Regions from separate parts of the Homo sapiens genome. Here region 2 is linked to region 1. The links come from fine-mapping of genetic effects on gene expression. Tissue or cell type: whole blood. Region 1 holds a variant in brackets; the other region holds the start of a gene. All regions are shown on one strand. Distances are from middle to middle.

Evidence for each region. PIP is the estimated chance that this variant, and not a neighbour inherited with it, causes the effect.
Region 2: RHBDD2 starts here. The variant in region 1 is fine-mapped to the expression of RHBDD2 in whole blood (TOPMed, PIP above 0.99).

Annotation. Positions count from the first base shown.
Region 1 is chr7:75,914,613-75,922,789 of GRCh38, reverse strand. It overlaps POR (cytochrome p450 oxidoreductase), which reads right to left and starts at 7,635. Exons shown (of 16, transcript NM_001395413.1): 1 at 7,611-7,635. MIR4651 (microRNA 4651) reads right to left here and starts at 7,593; the gene lies at 7,521-7,593. It also overlaps the pseudogene RPL7L1P3. RefSeq lists a silencer at 7,428-7,917. The variant A/G (reference allele first, on the strand shown) is at 3,833.
Region 2 is chr7:75,874,457-75,882,633 of GRCh38, reverse strand. It overlaps RHBDD2 (rhomboid domain containing 2), which reads right to left and starts at 3,600. Exons shown (of 4, transcript NM_001040456.3): 1 at 3,374-3,600; 2 at 398-805. The coding sequence starts at 3,551. RefSeq lists silencers at 3,220-3,399, 3,500-3,749 and an enhancer at 3,296-3,904.

The DNA.
Region 1 (8,177 bases):
GCCAAAGGGATTTTTCTTTGCTCCTGCTTTGCCATCTTTCTAGTGTTGCAGCTACTGAACATGCGCAACCCCACCACTGACACAAAATTTTATACCTGGATGGAAAACTAAAGTCCTACCAAAAGTTCCTACTGTACTTTGGAATAATCTTCAGAAGTACAGACCAGGCCAGGCGCAGTGGCTCACGCCTGTAATCCCAGCACTTCGGAAGGCCGAGGCGGGCAGACTGCTTCAGGTCAGGCATTCGAGACCAGCTGGGCAACATGGTGAAACCCCATCTGTACTAAAATTACAAAAAATTAGCCAGGCATGATGGCACACACCTATAATTCCAGCTACTCAGGAGGTTGAGGCACGAGAATTGCTTGAACCCAGGAGGCAGAGGTTGCAGTGAGCCAAGATTGCGCCACTGCACTCCAGCCTGGGCGACAGAGTGACAGGCTCTGTCTCAAAAAAAAAAAAAAAAAAAACTACAGATCAGACCCAATTTTGACATCTGAGCTCAGTCAATATGCAGGAGAAAGCTCAGCAGTAAACTTGGGGGACAGAAGCCATATTTATTCATTCATCCATTCATCCAAGTGCCTACCTTATGCCTGGCATTGTTCTATGCCCCAGCTTACACTCGCAGAAATGATAGGTTCCCTGTTCTCAACTGAATTCACCTTCTAGTCCAACCGTATTGCCACTAGGGAGGGGAGAATTAGACACCTTTTATTAAGTCACTGTTTATCCTTTATGAAAGCAGATGAAGAAGAAAACATGCAATAAGACAGTGACAGTGACCGGGCACAGTGGCTCCTGCCTATTATCCCAGCACTTTGGGAGGCTGAGCTGGGTGGACCACTTAAGGCCAGGAGTTCGAGACTGGCCTGGCCAACATGGTGAAACCCTGTCTCTACTAGAAATACAAAAATTAGCTAGGTGTGGAGGCACGTGCCTGTAGTGCCAGCTACTCGGGAGGCTGAGGCAGGAGAATCACTTGAACCTGACAGGTGGAGGTTGCAGTGAGCCAAATCGTGCCACTGCACTCCAGTCTGGGCGAAGAGAAAGGAGGGGTGACCGAAGCAGGGTTCCAAGATCAACCAGCAATGGTACCATGGACAGATCTTGGAACGTGGTAGGGAGGGGAAGAGAGGGAGAATTATGGGTCAATTACGGGTCAGCGCAGCAGGAAGTGACAAGGGGCTACAGTAAGACCACAGCAGTGGAAAGAGATTTAAAGGGCCGGGCGTGGTGGCTCACGCCTGCTGTAATCCCAGCACTTTGGGAGGCCGAGGCAGGCAGATCGCCTGAGGTCAGGAGTTCGAGACCAGCCTGGCCAACACAGTGAAACCCTGTCTCTACTAAAAATACAAAAATTAGCTGGGCGCGGTGCCGCGCACCTATAATCCCAGCTACTCGGGAAGCTGAGGCAGGAGAATCACTTGAACCTGGGAGGCAGAGGTTGCAGTGAGCTGAGATTGTGTCACTGCACTCTGAACAACAGAGCAAGAATCTGTCTCAAAAAAAAAAAAAAAAAAAGACTAAAAACTTACAGGACTTGGTGGTGGTGGGAGACCCAGAATGGAGAGGAAGGGAAAAGGGACAGGAGTCTTTTGTCCTTGGAGCTTCAGGGCCCAGGAAGTCGGTGAGGCCACTGACAGATAGAGCTCTTGTTGTGGAGGTTTCGGGTAGATGGGCTGGGAGCTTTTGATCACTGCTGTGACGCTGAATGACTCCTGAGTTTGCAAATCACGTTACGTAAGGAACGCGTCCAACGTGTCCATGTTAAGACTGTGTGGTTTCATGAGCAGTCAAAGGGTCTGAAGCCCTTCACCAAAACCAACAGTGGCTTTTCTCCACAAGACCACAAATACCTGACGGAACATTCCTGATGCCAAACTGCACTCTGAATGATGCCGGGCACCACTGGCTAATGCACTCTCCTGTGTATTCAAGAACTGCCATCCCTGTTTGCAGTGTTGAAAACTCAACCCAGGTGACCTATGGTCACTACATATGAGTTCAGAAAGTTCAGAAAGGTGACCGTAGTTCACGTGTTCCTAACCAAACCTGCAAACCTTTGTACAGGCCCGGCTTACCCAATGCACTGATGATGCATGCCCACGAAGATCAAAGTATCACTAGGACACAGTGCTCTAAGAACACCGGCATCACCACCGCAGAGGTGATGTGACGTGAGCTCAGAAACAGGGCTGTAGGAAAAAGTGCCGAAGATAAAAGGAGGGCAGATAAATAGAATGAGTAAGCACTGTTCTTAACTTTCACCTAGAAATAAATTACATCTGTTCCAAGTTAGAGGACACGCCCCACAATGCCCCATCTTCCTCCTCATTACTACATCCAAGTAGACAAAAGGCAACTTTCCCCCTTCTATTCTCCTACCAAATGTCTCCTAAAGAATTCAATTCTTATAAGCTGGACATGGTGGCTCACGCCTGGTAATCCTAGCACTTTGGGAGGCTGAGGCGGGTGGATCACTTGAGGTCAGGAGTTTGAAACCAGCCTGGCCAACACAGTGAAACCTCATCTCTACTAAAAATACAAAAAAAAATTAGCCGGGCGTGATGGCACGCGCCTGTAATCCCAGCTACTTGGGAGGCTGAGGCAGAAGAATTGCTTGAACCTGGAAGGCAGAGGTTGCAGTGAGCCAAGATCACACCACTGCACTCCAGCCTAGGCGAGAGAGTCAGACTCTGTCTCAAAAAAAAAAAAAAAAAAAAAAAAAAAGAAATTCAACTCTTGGAGAACAGTCCACAGCTGACAGCACCACAGTCTGGCCACCAACATATTCTAAGTTAGCCTTGAAACTGACGCATTTCGGGAAATTATGTGTACAATTCTCTCAGCTAGGTACAGATGCTGCACAAAGGAGATCCGAATGCCACACCCTCCAGCACTCCAATGAAAGGACAATTCTTAGATATCCCCCTATCCAAGTCACCTCTTTAACAAGTGAAATAAATAAGCTTCCCACATCAACAGTTTGCTGCACAAGCCACCAGAAGGATCAGGTTCCCCGGGGCTTTGTTCACAACACGTCCAAGCATCAACTGAGTTGCCACACCGACCAGCGTCAGGAGTAACAGTTACTGGGCTGGGCGCGGTGGCTCATGCCTGTAATCCCAGCGTTTTGGGAGGCTGAGATAGGAGGCTCACTTGAGGCCAGGAGTTTGAAACTAGCCTGGGCAACATAGCCAGACCCCACTTCTACAAATAATAAATAAATAAATAAACATACAGAGAGAGAAAAGGAAAGAAAGAAACAAACTGATGAACGTGGCTCCAGTGAACCCAACCAACTGGAGCCACCAATCTGCAAAGAACCATGGTCTGCCCCCATGGAATTCCTCCATCTTCTCTCCCTCTTATATGCATACACACACACACACACACACACACACGCACGCACAGATGCAGACAGGCGTGTGCACACTAATCCCAACAAGAACACAACTGATGTAAACATCTCGCTTGGGGAGGAAAAACTTTTAAGATGTAGAGCTCTAAAACAGTATGATTACAAATTTAGACACAGTAAAAATTTCCCAAATGGTTGTTCATTCACCCAGAGAGGATATTAGGCAGTAAGAGAATATTCAGTACAAGAAAACACTGTCCTGAGCCAGACATGGTGGCCGGTGCCTGTAATCCTAGCTACTCGGGAGGCTGAGGCACAAGAATTGCTTGAACCCAGGAGACAGAGGTTGCAGTGAGCCAAGATCACACCACTGCACTCCAGCCTGGGTGACAGAGTGAGACTCTGTCTAAAAAAAAAAAAAACACACAACACTGATCTGAGCTAGTCACATAGCCCTGACCTTTTAAA[A/G]CACCTCCCCATCTCTTCCCATGGTTCCTAGGACCATTTCAGACAAGTGCCACCACGCGACCTCAGCCTCATGCAATCTACACCCTACATGCCCCCCAGAGCTGGTGTGCCTGGGTGGGCTCAGAGAACTCCTAGCAATCCTCCAAGACCCAACTCAAACATCACCTCTCCCCTGGAGCCCTGCTGTGGAAACAAACAGCAGGCTCAGCACTAATAAAAGCCTCACCCCATCATCTTGAGAATGAATGCAACACACCGTGCCATTCTTGTTGAATTGTATGCTTGCTTCCCTCCCTGTGAGAGTTCTCAAGTGCCCAAACCAGAGCCTACACATATCCTAAGGCCGGATGTGTGCTTTTTTATGTGTCACGCTACAGGGATCCAAACAGCGCCAAGAAGATGAAGAAGGACCCACTGCTGAAAGGGTTAACATGTTCTGAGCTGTCCCAGAGGCAGGTGGAGTGGGTTCTTTCTCTGACTTTAGTGATGAAGAAACTAAGGCTTGGTATAGGTCAGCGGCCTATGCAAGCAGGTAAGTGACCTCTGACTCAGATGCTTCTCCCACCTGCCCGGCGGGTCCAAATTTCTGCCCAATGCCAGATGACAAAACTGCACAGCAAAACAAGTTGTTGTTTTTTGGGTTTTTTTTTCTGAGACAGAGTCTCACTCTGTCACCCAGGCTGGAGTGCAGCAGCACGATCTCGGCTCACTGCAACCTCCGCTTCCCAGGTTCAAGTGATTCTTCTGCCTCAGCCTCCTGAGTAGTTGGGATTACAGGTGCACACCACCACACCGGCTAATTTTTGTATTTTTAGTAGAGACGGGGTTTCACCACGTTGGCCAGGCTGGTCTCGAACTCCTGACCTCAAGTGATCTGCCTGCCTCGGCCTCCCAAAGTGCTGGGATTACAGGCGTGAGCCACCATGCCCAGTCAATTTTTGTATTTGTATTTTTTTTATAGAGACAGGGATTCGCCGTGTTGCCCAGGCTGGTCTCAAACTCCTGGACTCAAGCAATTCACCCACCTTGGTCTCCCAAAGTGCCGGAATTACAGGCGTGAGCCACTGTTCCCAGCCTAGAATTGGCATTTGAAAGTCTTTTAAGGCTGTAGCCACCTGGGAGGCTGTGTGCTAATGAGCACAGAATCTTTGGCCAGGTGGTGGGTACTCGAAATTCCAGCTACTCAGGAGGCTGAGGCAGAATTCAAGCAAGGAAAATTGCTTGAACCTGGGGGAGGTGGAGGCTGCACTGAGCCCACTGCGCTCCAGCCTGGGCGACAGAGCGAGACTCCATCTCAAAAAAAGAAAAGAAAAGAAAAGAAAATTGTCATTTCTCCATTTCACCTTTTTCTAACTTTAATTTTTAAGTGAGTCTGACATATAACAGAAAGTTAAATCCCAACATGCTCAATTGAGGCCACACACGGTGCTAGTGCCAGAGCTTGACCTCTGTTTCTCTGGCTCCTCCCTAAAGCACAAGGACATCGAAGCTCTTGTAGGGGCGGCCAGCCTCTCTGGAACCATGAAAGGTCCTATAACTTCAAGAGCTTCCATCAGAAAAAAAAAAAAAAAAAAGAAGAAGAAATAAGAAAGCCAGGAACGGTGGCTCACACCTGTAATCTCAGCACTTTAGGAGGTCAAAGCAGGAGGACCACTTGAACCCCAGAATTCGAGACCAGCCTGGGCAACATGGCAAACCAAATCTCTAAAAAACATTTAAAAAATTAGCTGGGTGTGGTGGTGCGTGCCTGTACTCCCAACTACTTGGGAGGCTGAGGAGGGAGGATTGCTTGAATCCTGGAGGTTGAGGCTGCAGTGAGCTATGATTGCGCCACTGCACTCCAGCCTGCACGACAGAGTGAGACCTGTCTCACAAAAAAAAAAAAGTTACTTAAAAGCTAAATTATTTTTAACTTGAAATGTTCCATGGACTTCACGAGTAAATGTTCTGGATTTGCCAAGCAGTTTTGATTTCAATTGGCCTGTCTCCTAATCATACACAGACTTACCTAACACAGATTCTGATTTTCAAGGGGTTAAGGGTGGATCAACCCAGAGTTAACCAACAGCAGGTCCTAAAATTCAGGTATGTCTGGCAGCAAACATCCTCTGTGGCATTTATAAACTCCTACTACCCAGGACGATCCACACCTGATTTACATTGGCTGCGGTCAATGCTGCTGTTTTCAGGAATATCCCTGGGTTGTTTCATTTCAAATCTACCTATTATTTCTTCAAGTGCTAGACCTGAAGAATTTTGGAAAATTAAGATCACTCCTAAGTTTCCACACCACCACGCAACTGGCAGCTAGCATCCCATTCTCTGAAATGCGGATGTTGTACAAATACTTTTTATAATAAGCTATCTGCTCAGCGAAAGTTTCCAACATTAGATGGCATGAAGGTCATAAGTAGCTCAAAAACCACTCTCTTAAAAGGAAAATAAGAACTCCTAAAACAGCCCTCCTCCCAAAAAAAAGGAAGTGGACCTTTCTGGGTTCCCTGGTTTACTAACTGGGCCTTTGGAGCTGTTCTCCTGACCAAGCCAACCCCATAACCACTCAAAAGGGATTTCCGTAGGTAGAACTTGCAAATGGTTAATGAATCAATGCCTTCTCCATAAAGCAAGACCCAAGGAATTACAGCAGTGAACAACGGTGGGGATACTGGATCCCCCAGAGGGTTCCATAAACGTTCTGCTTACAAGGAGGATTAAAGTTCTCGATGCCACTCTCTGGGACCCTGTCTTGATCCTCAGAATCTCAACCCTGTGGGGAGAGCAGGGTGGCTGTCTTACTACCAGACCCACTGATCAGAAAACGGAGGCTCCAGGAGGTATCTTGCTTGCCAAGAATCAAACCAGGGCCACCCAGTCCAGTCCTGTCTCCTTTTGTGCTGGCATCATTCTCCAGCTTGGCCAAGCTCAGAGGCAAGGCAAGGCAAGGCTGCAGCTTTAAGGGTTTAAGAGAGGAGACAGCCACTTTCATTGAAACAGCCCCAAACTCCTTATTAGTGGTCACCAGTTTACACAAGGGTAACTCGTTTTGAAAAACAATACGCAGAAAGTCGAAGTCAATCAAGCTCACTGAAACCTCTACTCTCCTCCCCCTGGCGCCCAAGAGACCTTGAACTCTTACCCAATTGCTCCCCCGATCTAAGGGTGTCCCGGCTCCCCCAGGAGATCCGGGTACCTGTGTTGTGGGGGCCGCCGAGACACCTGACTGCGAGGGGCACTGCCCTCAGGGATGCAGGCCGGGCTGGGGGGCTCCCGTGATCCATCGACTCAGCCCACCTGATGCTGCAGGGTTAGATTCGGGTCCCATGAGCATGCATCGAGCGCCTCTCACGTTAGGTACCCCCAGAATTCGCTGCCTCCCGAGGCCCATTCATCGTACAGATGGGGAAACTGAGGCTCGGAGAGTTAAAGTGGCTTAGCCCGTGGGGGGCGGCGGCGCGGGGACTGGACCCCGAGCCCTGAGATACCGAGCCCTAACCCTCAGCCGAGGGCCTGCCGGGCTCTCTCGGCCCAAGCTGTGGAAAAGTCGACCCTCAGGCCGCCGCGGGAGATCAGCTCTAGGGGAAGGGCGACGCGGAGGAGGGCCGGGGTGGGAGCCATGCCTTCCGCCCGAGCGTCGGGCCAGACGCGCAGTGCCCAGGCCCGAGGGCCCACCCCGACGCAGAGAGCCAGGCGGCCGCGGTGAACTGAGGCGCCCGGCAAACCCCGAGTCTTGGGGCCCGACCTCACCCACCCCGCCGTCGCCGCGAAAGATAGCACTCACCGCTGGCAGCCCGGCTGCTCTCTGCGGGCACCTGGGCAGGGCTCAGGCCCACACCACTGAGGCGCTACCACCGCCTTCGCCGGCCGCGGGGGTGGGGGCGTGGCCATTGGGCCGCCGCCCCGCCCACTCGAGCCGCGCGTGCATTCCCGGAGCCCCGCGCTTCCCCCTGCAAATTTGCGCTCTTGGTACGGCCCGGCCCGGCCACGCCCCCTCGCGGCTCGGCTGGGTCGCCCGGCAGAGAAATGAAAGTGCGTGGTTCCGGGGGTGGCGGAGTCGCCTGGAGACGGCGGCTGCGGCTTCTACAGCTCGGACCCTGCAGGTCACCGGGCCGGCTGCCCACCTTCCCGGGGATCACTGCAGAACTGTGGCTGTGCGCCCGCCGGTCTAGCCTCCTCCTTCGGGCCGCCGCTTGCTTGTGATCGCCACATTGTCTCCTCCACGGCCCTGTTTCCTCACCTGAAATTGGCGAGGCTTCAGGCCCAAGTCGTCTCCCTGGGTTCCCTCCATCCAGCCTGACGGCGGAGGGCGCGCGTTTGTTTTTAGAGACAGGGTCTCGTTCTGTCGCCC
Region 2 (8,177 bases), 40 kb after region 1:
TCAGATATGACTCGGCCACGGTGGCTCACACCTGTAATCCTAGCACTTTGGGAGGCCACGGTGGGTAGATCACCTGAGACCAGGAGTTCAAGACCAGCCTGGGCAACATGGTGAAACCCTGTGTCTACTAAAAAGAAAATATAAAAATTAGCCGGGTGTAGTGGTGCACACCTGTAGTCCCAGCTACTCAGGGGGCTGAGGCAGGATTGCTTGAGCCCAGGAGGCAGAGGTTGCAGTGAGTTGAGATCCTGCCACTGCACTCCAGCCTGGGTGACAGAGACTCTGTTTCGAAAAAATACAAAGTAAGCCCAATTTTATCTACTTGACACCCCAGACCCTCCAGCCTGGTTCACCCTTTGACATGCGTTGTTCTATAGCTCTCTGCTAGGAAGGATACAGGCCAGCCCGATGGACAGCCCGCAGACATTACTGAGGAAAGAGGTCTGGGGAATGAGCCACGAGGCACCCAGCAGGAGCCACGGAACCAGGACTGAGGGCACAACCATGCCAAACACCAGGGCCCGCCTCATCCGAGAACGGACGGTGGTGACTCCCAGCATGGCAAAGGCCACTGGGGTGAAACCTCTGGCATCCTCCACTTCCCCCAGCTTTGACAGTGATGACACAGCCTCGAATGACAGGAAGATGATAGCGGAGAAGATGGCGAAGATCACGGTGAAGAAGCAGTGGCGGACGGTGCCCACGGTTCTCTCGAAATTGCCAGCAAAGCGCCAGATGATGATAGCGCCGCAGAGCAGGGAGATGGGATTCTCGTAGACAAAGATGTAGGTTACCAGCCTGTAAACTGCAGAGGGAGTCGGGTTAGAGGCCTGGCGGCGGGTTGCTCCCAGGAGGGAAGCCAGGTTATAAGCCGCCTAGGAAAGGCAGAGAGCCCCCCTCCGTGACAGAGAAGTGAGAGCCAGTGAGTCGCAGCAGGAGGCAATACAAGCAGTGCGTTCAACAATGAAGGACCCAGAGCCTCAAAGGAGAGGCATGAATATCTAATCCCTACACTTCCCCAGGCCTGGTGCAACTCTTAGCGGTAACTGACTTCCAGAGGGAAAAAAATAATACTTTTCGGTAGAGGGCAGTCTCTGAATTTGTAAAGTGCTTTATAATCCTTTTTCAGGTTTTCATACTGACCTACCTCACTGGGCAGTTTGAGGGTTAATTAAGTGTAACAGCTTCGGGGTGGATTGAGTGGGTGTCACTTAACACTCTGTGTGCCAGTCTCCTCTGCTGTAATCCTGACCCCTCCTTCCATAGTGGCTGTTCAGAGGAAGAAAAAAGGGACCATGAATTATTTTGCAGCTGTAAGAATTATAACACTATCATTAACAATAAAGATTATAGAAATTATAAGTCTCCTCAGAAAGTGCTTATCCGATCTCACAGGTAAACTGATGCTTTATATGTAATAAGACATCAAAGAATCCTCCTTTTCCTTTTTTTAAATTTTTATTTGTAGAGACAAAGTCTTGCTACGTTGCCCAGGCTAGCCTTGAACTCCTGGCCTCCAGTGATCCTCCTGCCTTGAATTCCCAAAGTGCTGAAACTACACATACGAACCATCATTCCTGGCCTTTTATTTTTCTAAAAGCAGTTATCGCCAGGCATGGTGGCTCACACCTGTAATCCCAGCATTTTGGGAGGCTTAGGTGGAAGGATCACTTGAGCCCAGGAGTTCAAGACCAGCCTAGGTAACATAGTGAGACCCCCGTCTTTAAAAAAAATTTAAAAATTAGTCAGGTGTGATGATGTGTACTTGTAGTCCCAGCTACTTGGGAGGCTGAGGCAGGAGGCTCGCTTGATTCCAGGAGTTGAACGCTGCAGTGAGCTATGATTGCATCTCTGCACTCCAGCCTGGGTAAGACGAAGACCCTATCTCTAAAAAAATTTTAGAAGTGGTTATCTCTTAAGTATTTTTATGTCCCTGCATGCCCAAATACGACTAAACTCAAGGAGAGAGACCAAAGAACTGATGGTAATATTGGACTTGGGAGTCTAAAGACTTGGAGTGGAATCTTGGCTCTATTACATCCAGGCTGGCTGAGTTTAATCATGTCACAGGTCCTCTAGGCGTCAGTTTCCTCACTGTAAAGTAACAAGAGTTAGATTGAGGACTTCAAAGGTCCCTTACGTCTCTAACGCTCACATATCCACGAAACCCACACCCAGGGAAGCAGTGAACCCCAGAAAGTGGGAGGTTAAGGTTAGGTTGGCATTTTGCTTCTGTCTGTGAGGTGGTGCTATGTATACCTAGGGTGGGGGGAACAGTTTTAGATTGGAGTGGGGAAGCAGGCTATGGAACCATATACCTCAGTCTGGCCATCACCAGAGGCTTCATTATCTGAAGAGTACTTCATTATTTGTTGAGTATTTCCAAAACTGAAATTCCAAGTATAAACATGAAAAGATTCTAGAAGCAACTGTACATGATTTGGAGATTATCTACCCGAAGGCTCTAGTTCCAAAACATCACAGAATAAAAAAAAAAATATAGATTCCTATCTCAATTGCATGACGCAACAGCTCTGCGATTCTCTGCATGAAACCTCAATCTTATCTAGATAACGGGCCAATAACAGGTCCTACGTCATGGGATCCTTGTGAGGGTTAAACGAAATTAATACATATCAGTGTGTGTGCTTTGCAAAACAGCAGGAGATATGCAAATTTCCTGTGTTCCTCTCGAGAAAATGAGGAAGACACGGAGACTAGGAATGTCTTTCAGGAATGGATGTTTATACTTAATTGGTCTGCAAAATTTCTCTCCCCTAGAGAAAAACAAACACTTCTCTCCAAAGGCAGAAGACACCCTGGTACCCCCATGAGCTGGGAATGGCAGTCAAGATTAAGATACAGATGAAAAAGCAGAAGAAATTCCAAATCTCAAGAGGGCAGGACGTTTATAGGGCTTATAGGGGTTTGTGGATAAAGTCCAATTGTCGTGATGTAGGTGAGAGAAAAACGTTTTTCAGTGGGGCTTAGGCCTAAAGCAGACGTAGGTGTGTATGTGAAATGGGAGGGGGAGACGAAAAATCTTTACCCTTGGAGAGCGAGCATGGATTTGCTAGCGAATGGATTTGGGGCCTTAACCAGTCTGGTGGCGACAGGGAAGGGAACAAATTCGGGTAGGGAAGGGATTACAGTGATGACGAAGATGGGGTCTGCAGACAAAGGTGTGGAACACGGAGAGCAAGAGACGGTGCTGGAGGTCGGTCCTCCGGGGGGCGGGCATGGTGATGAGGACCGAGACAGGGGGAGACTGGCGGTGAGGCCTGAAGGGGCGAGTCCCGGAGGCTAGAGCCCAGGAACCGGCAAAGTCGGAGGACAAGGACTCGCCCCGCGATCCCGGCCCGCCCCTGCTCACCTTGCCAGTTGCGAAGGGCCTCGGACTTCAGCGTGAGGCCCGAGGGCGCCAGGGGCTGCTGCAGCAGGAACAGGCGAGGCCCGGAAACCAGCAGCGAGAGCAGCGCAGTGAAGAAGGTGGCGGATGGCACCTCGGGACACAAGCACCAGCTGCGACACCCGGGCCCCGAGGCCGCCATGGCCGCCGTCGTTCCCGCGCCCCGCCTCGACGCCGGCTGCCGGTCCTCTGCTCCTTCCGCCTCCTCGCGGCAGTTTCCCTTGGCAACAGCAGAGGAGCCGGCCGGAGGCCACGCCTCCCAGAGGCCCCGCCCCATGCCAAGTTGTCCAATCCGGTAGCGCCGATCAGCCCCCCCCCCCCCCCCCCCCGTGCGTGGGAGGCCGGGACGGGGGGAGGGGGGTCGGGGCCACTTCCGGGTAGGAATGTTCCAGCACCGTGTTTGATTCCATCCTACTCGGGCTGGTACTGAAACTGCTCCTATAAACTTTAGGAAATTAATCAGGGAAGAAGGGAGGGGGAAAAACGAAAATAAACGAAGCTTGCAGCACACTCTGCGTTCATCACTAGGTCACCTTGCTCTCCGACCTGCTTGCTCATAGCTCTGTGTATCAGCTATGATAGGTGCCCATCGTCTGTCCTAGAATCACGTAGACCCTGTCACAAGATTACAATTCCCCTTAACTCCATAGATAACAACTTGAACATTATGAAACGTTTTCCCTTGGAGATATTCTTTCAGGTCCCGCATACCAGCATAATTACTGACACCAGTTGTTCTGAAGGAGCCCACAGAAGCAAGACTCAATGGGGACTGCAGTTTCCATATCCTGAGGATTTCAACCCCCTTACCCTGACCAGTCGATGACCCCAATTTTCCAGCCCCTCACCCTTCACAATGCCCTTTAAAATCCCAGCCCGGAACTCCTTGGGGAAGATGGATTTGTTGGTCTCCCTGCGTCTCCTCCTAGGCACCCTGCCATCTTTAAACCCTTTTTCTGCTGATAACCCTGCTTCCTCAGTGTAACTGGTCTGTTATTGCACAGCGGGCCTAGGCACCTGTTGGTCCTGTAATAATACCTCATGATTATTATGCCTTACAGCTCACAGAACTCTTTCATATCACGATCTTCCCATCTGTATTCATCCCTATTACACCAAAGAGGAAACAGGACTAGGGAGGGCCCTGGGTAATTCAGTTACATGGCAAAGACAGAATTAGAACTCAGTTCCTCCTGCTATGGCCCGGAATTGGCCTCCAGTACAGCCAGGGGCAGCTTTATCTTCATATTGAAGAAAAGGGGCAGGAGGCTGGGCACGGTGGCTCACGCCTGCAATCCCAGCACTTTGGGAGGCCGAGGCGGGCGGATCACGAGGTCAAGAATTAGAGACCAGCCTGGCCAACATGGTGAAACCCCGTCTCTAATAAAACTACAAAAATTAACCCGGCATGGTGGCGCGTGCCTGTAATCCCAGCTACTCCGGAGGCTGAGGCAGGAGAATCGCTTGAACCCAGGAGGCGGAGGTTGCAGCAAGCCGAGATCGCACCACTGCGCTCCAGCCTGGGTGACAGAGCAAGACTGTATCTCGGAAAAAAAAAAAAGGAAAAGGGACAGGAAACGGGAGAGGGATTCAATGGAAGGGACTCAAAAGTTAGGGATGTAATAGAACACTCATAACCGAGATCTATTTCAGCACTTTACAGTTTGAAAAGTGCTTTTGCTGGAGAACAGCTGTTTAAGGTAGACCTTCCTTTTTTTTTGACAAGAGTCTCACTCTGTCACCCAGGCTGGAGTGCAGTGGCGTGATCTCTGCTCACTGCCACCTCTGCCACCCAGATGCAAGTGATTCTTGTGCCTCAGCCTCCCGAGTCCCAAGTAGCTGGGACTACAGGTGTGCATCACCACGCCCAGCTAATTTTTGCATTTTTAGTAGATATGGGATTTCACCACATTGGCCAGGCTGGTCTCGAACTCCTGACCTCAGGTGATAAGCCTGCCTTGACCTCTCAAAGTCCTGGAATTACAGACATGAGCCACTGTGCCCAGCAGTACCTTCAAGGGTACTACCTTTTTCGCTTTCTCCAGTGACCCTGCCCAGTACTCCCTCCCCTCACATGGTAGAAGTATTTGGCTCCTTCCCCACACACCCACCCTAGTGTTATCAGCTCCTTGCCCTTGGCTGCAGGCTTTGGTTTGACTCAGCTGTAACTGCTGCCCCCCATAGCTTAGAAGCTCCTGCTGGCTCTGAAGGAAGGAGGCTAAATTTTGGGGCTTGTGTGTCCTGCTTCAGTAGCACAATCATAGCTCACTGCAGCCTTGACCTCCCGGGCTCATGGTATCCTCCTGCCTCAGCCTCCCAAGTAGCTGGAACCACAGGTGCGTGCTACCGCACCTAGCTAGCTGCTTCTTTTTTGTAGAGATGGGATCTTGCTCTGTTGCCCAGGCTGGTCTTGAACTCCTGGGCTTAGGCAATCGTCCCGCCTTGGCCTCCCAAAGTGCTGGGATGACAGGTGTGAGCCACCATGCCTAGCCTGTTGTGTGCTTTTTATGTAGTTACTCATTACATTTTCACAACCCTTGTGAGGCTGGTTCTGTAATTACGCCCGTTTTACAGATGAAGCAATGGAGATACAGAGAAGTTAAGTAACTTAAAATTAGGCAACAAGTCTTCCAGGAATTTTTTTTTTTTTTTTTTGAGACGAAGTCTTGCTCTGTCACCCAGGCTGGAGTGCAGTGCTGTAATGTCTGTTCACTGTAACCTCCTCCTCCCTGGTTCAAGCAGTTCGCTGCCTCAGCCTCCTGAGGCACTTCCCATATTATACTATCATTGCATATTTGTGCCCGTAATTGTGAGCTTACCAAGGGCAGAAGCCATGTCTGATTTATACCTGTGTCTGTATCCACAGCCCTGGCACCTAGCACACAGTGGGGCCACAGAAAATGTTCAATGCAAAGTTATTAGCCCTGATGCCTTTGGGATGTGACCTACTTCCCTTCCTTGTCTCTTGTCCAGAAGCCGAGGGTTCTCACGTAATTGAGACCCCTGGGGACTGTTATAACAACAGCCACCATCCCGAATGCATTTCACACTGAATTTCTGGCAAGAATTTCAAGATATTTTTTGAAGAGGAGACCTGAGGTACACCAGTCTAGGATGGCATGGCCAGTCAGCCCACCTAGCTCTCTGTAGAAAGAGTTTTCTGCATTTGCTGTGCAGAGGGTTTAGGCTCGGAGAGGGCAGTTGCAGGAGATATTCACGTTTCCCTTAAGGGAAACCTAGGATTGCAGGTGTGAGACACTGCACTTTTTTTTTTTTTTTTTGAGACTGAGTTTCGCTTTTGTTCCCCAGGTTGGAGTGCAATGGTGTGATCTTGGCTCACCGCAACCTCCGCCTCCCCGGTTCAAGCGATTCTCCTGACTCAGCGTCCCGAGTAGCTAGGATTACAGGCATGCGCTAGCATGCCCGGTTAATTTTGCATTTTTAGCAGAAACGGGGTTTCACCATGATGGTCAGGCTGGTCTCGAACTCCCGATCTCAGGTGATCCGCCTGAGATCTCAGCCTCCCAAAATGCTGGGATTACAGGCTTGAGCCACCACGCCCAGCCCACTGGGCCTTTTTGTTGTTGTTGTTTGTACAGACAGAGGTCTCACTATGTTGCCCAGGCTGGTCTCAAACTCTTGGGCTCAAGTGATCCTCGTGCCTGGGCCTCCCAAAGTGTTGGGATTCCAGGCATGAGCCAAGCCAAAAACCAGGAGATAAATACCATGTTATACTGGCCATTTCCTTTAATGTTCCCTTAAAGGAGACATTAATGGCTCCTACATTAGCATTTGAGAAGCAGCCAGTGTGGAGCTGGTGGAGCTCAGGCTGGAAGTCAGGAGGAAGCAGGACCTCACCCTGGCTCTTTCACTCGCTGCCTGAGTGATCTTGGGTAAGGGAGCCTCAGTTTCCTCATCTATAAAATGGGAACTAAGTCTTATCTTGCAGGGTTTTGATGAAGAAAACAGATAAGATTGACCGAGGGACGAATAGGATGTGAGGAGGTCACACTGTGAGTTAGTGGAAGAGCTAGGATTTGAACTTGGGTCATTAGATCTCTAAAGTTGTTCTATTTCTTTTTATTTTTTTGAGACAGAGTCTTACTCTGTCGCCCAGGCTGGAGTGCAGTGGCGTGATCTTGGCTCACTGCAACCTCCACCTCCCAGGTTCAAGTGATTCTCCTGCCTTAGCCTCCCCAGTAGCTGGGATTACAGGCACATGCCACCACGCCCTGCTAATTTTTGTATTTTTAGTAGAGACAGGGTTTCGCCATGTTGGCCAGGCTGCTCTCAAACTCCTGGCCTCAAGTGATCCATCTGCCTTGGCCTCCCAAAGTGCTGGGATTATAGGCGTGCGCCACTGCACCTGGCCAAGTTGTTCTATTTCTTTTTTTTTTTTGAGACGGAGTCTCGCTCTGTCGCCCAGGCTGGAGTGCAGTGGTGCGACCTTGGCTCACTACAAACTCTACCTTCCGAGTTCACGCCATTCTCCTGCCTCAGCCTCCCGAGTAGCTGGGACTACAGGCGCCCGCCACCACGTCTGGCTAATTTTTTTGTATTTTCAGTAAAGACGGGGTTTCACCATGTTAGCCAGGATGGTCTCGATCTCCTGACCTCATGATCCACCTGCCTTGGCCTTCCAAAGTGCTGGGATTACAGGCGTGAGCCCCTGTGCCCAGCCAGGTTGTTCTATTTCTACCACTACACACATCTCTACCATGGCAAGTATAACACGGTATTTACTTCCTGGTTTTTGGCCAGTCACAGC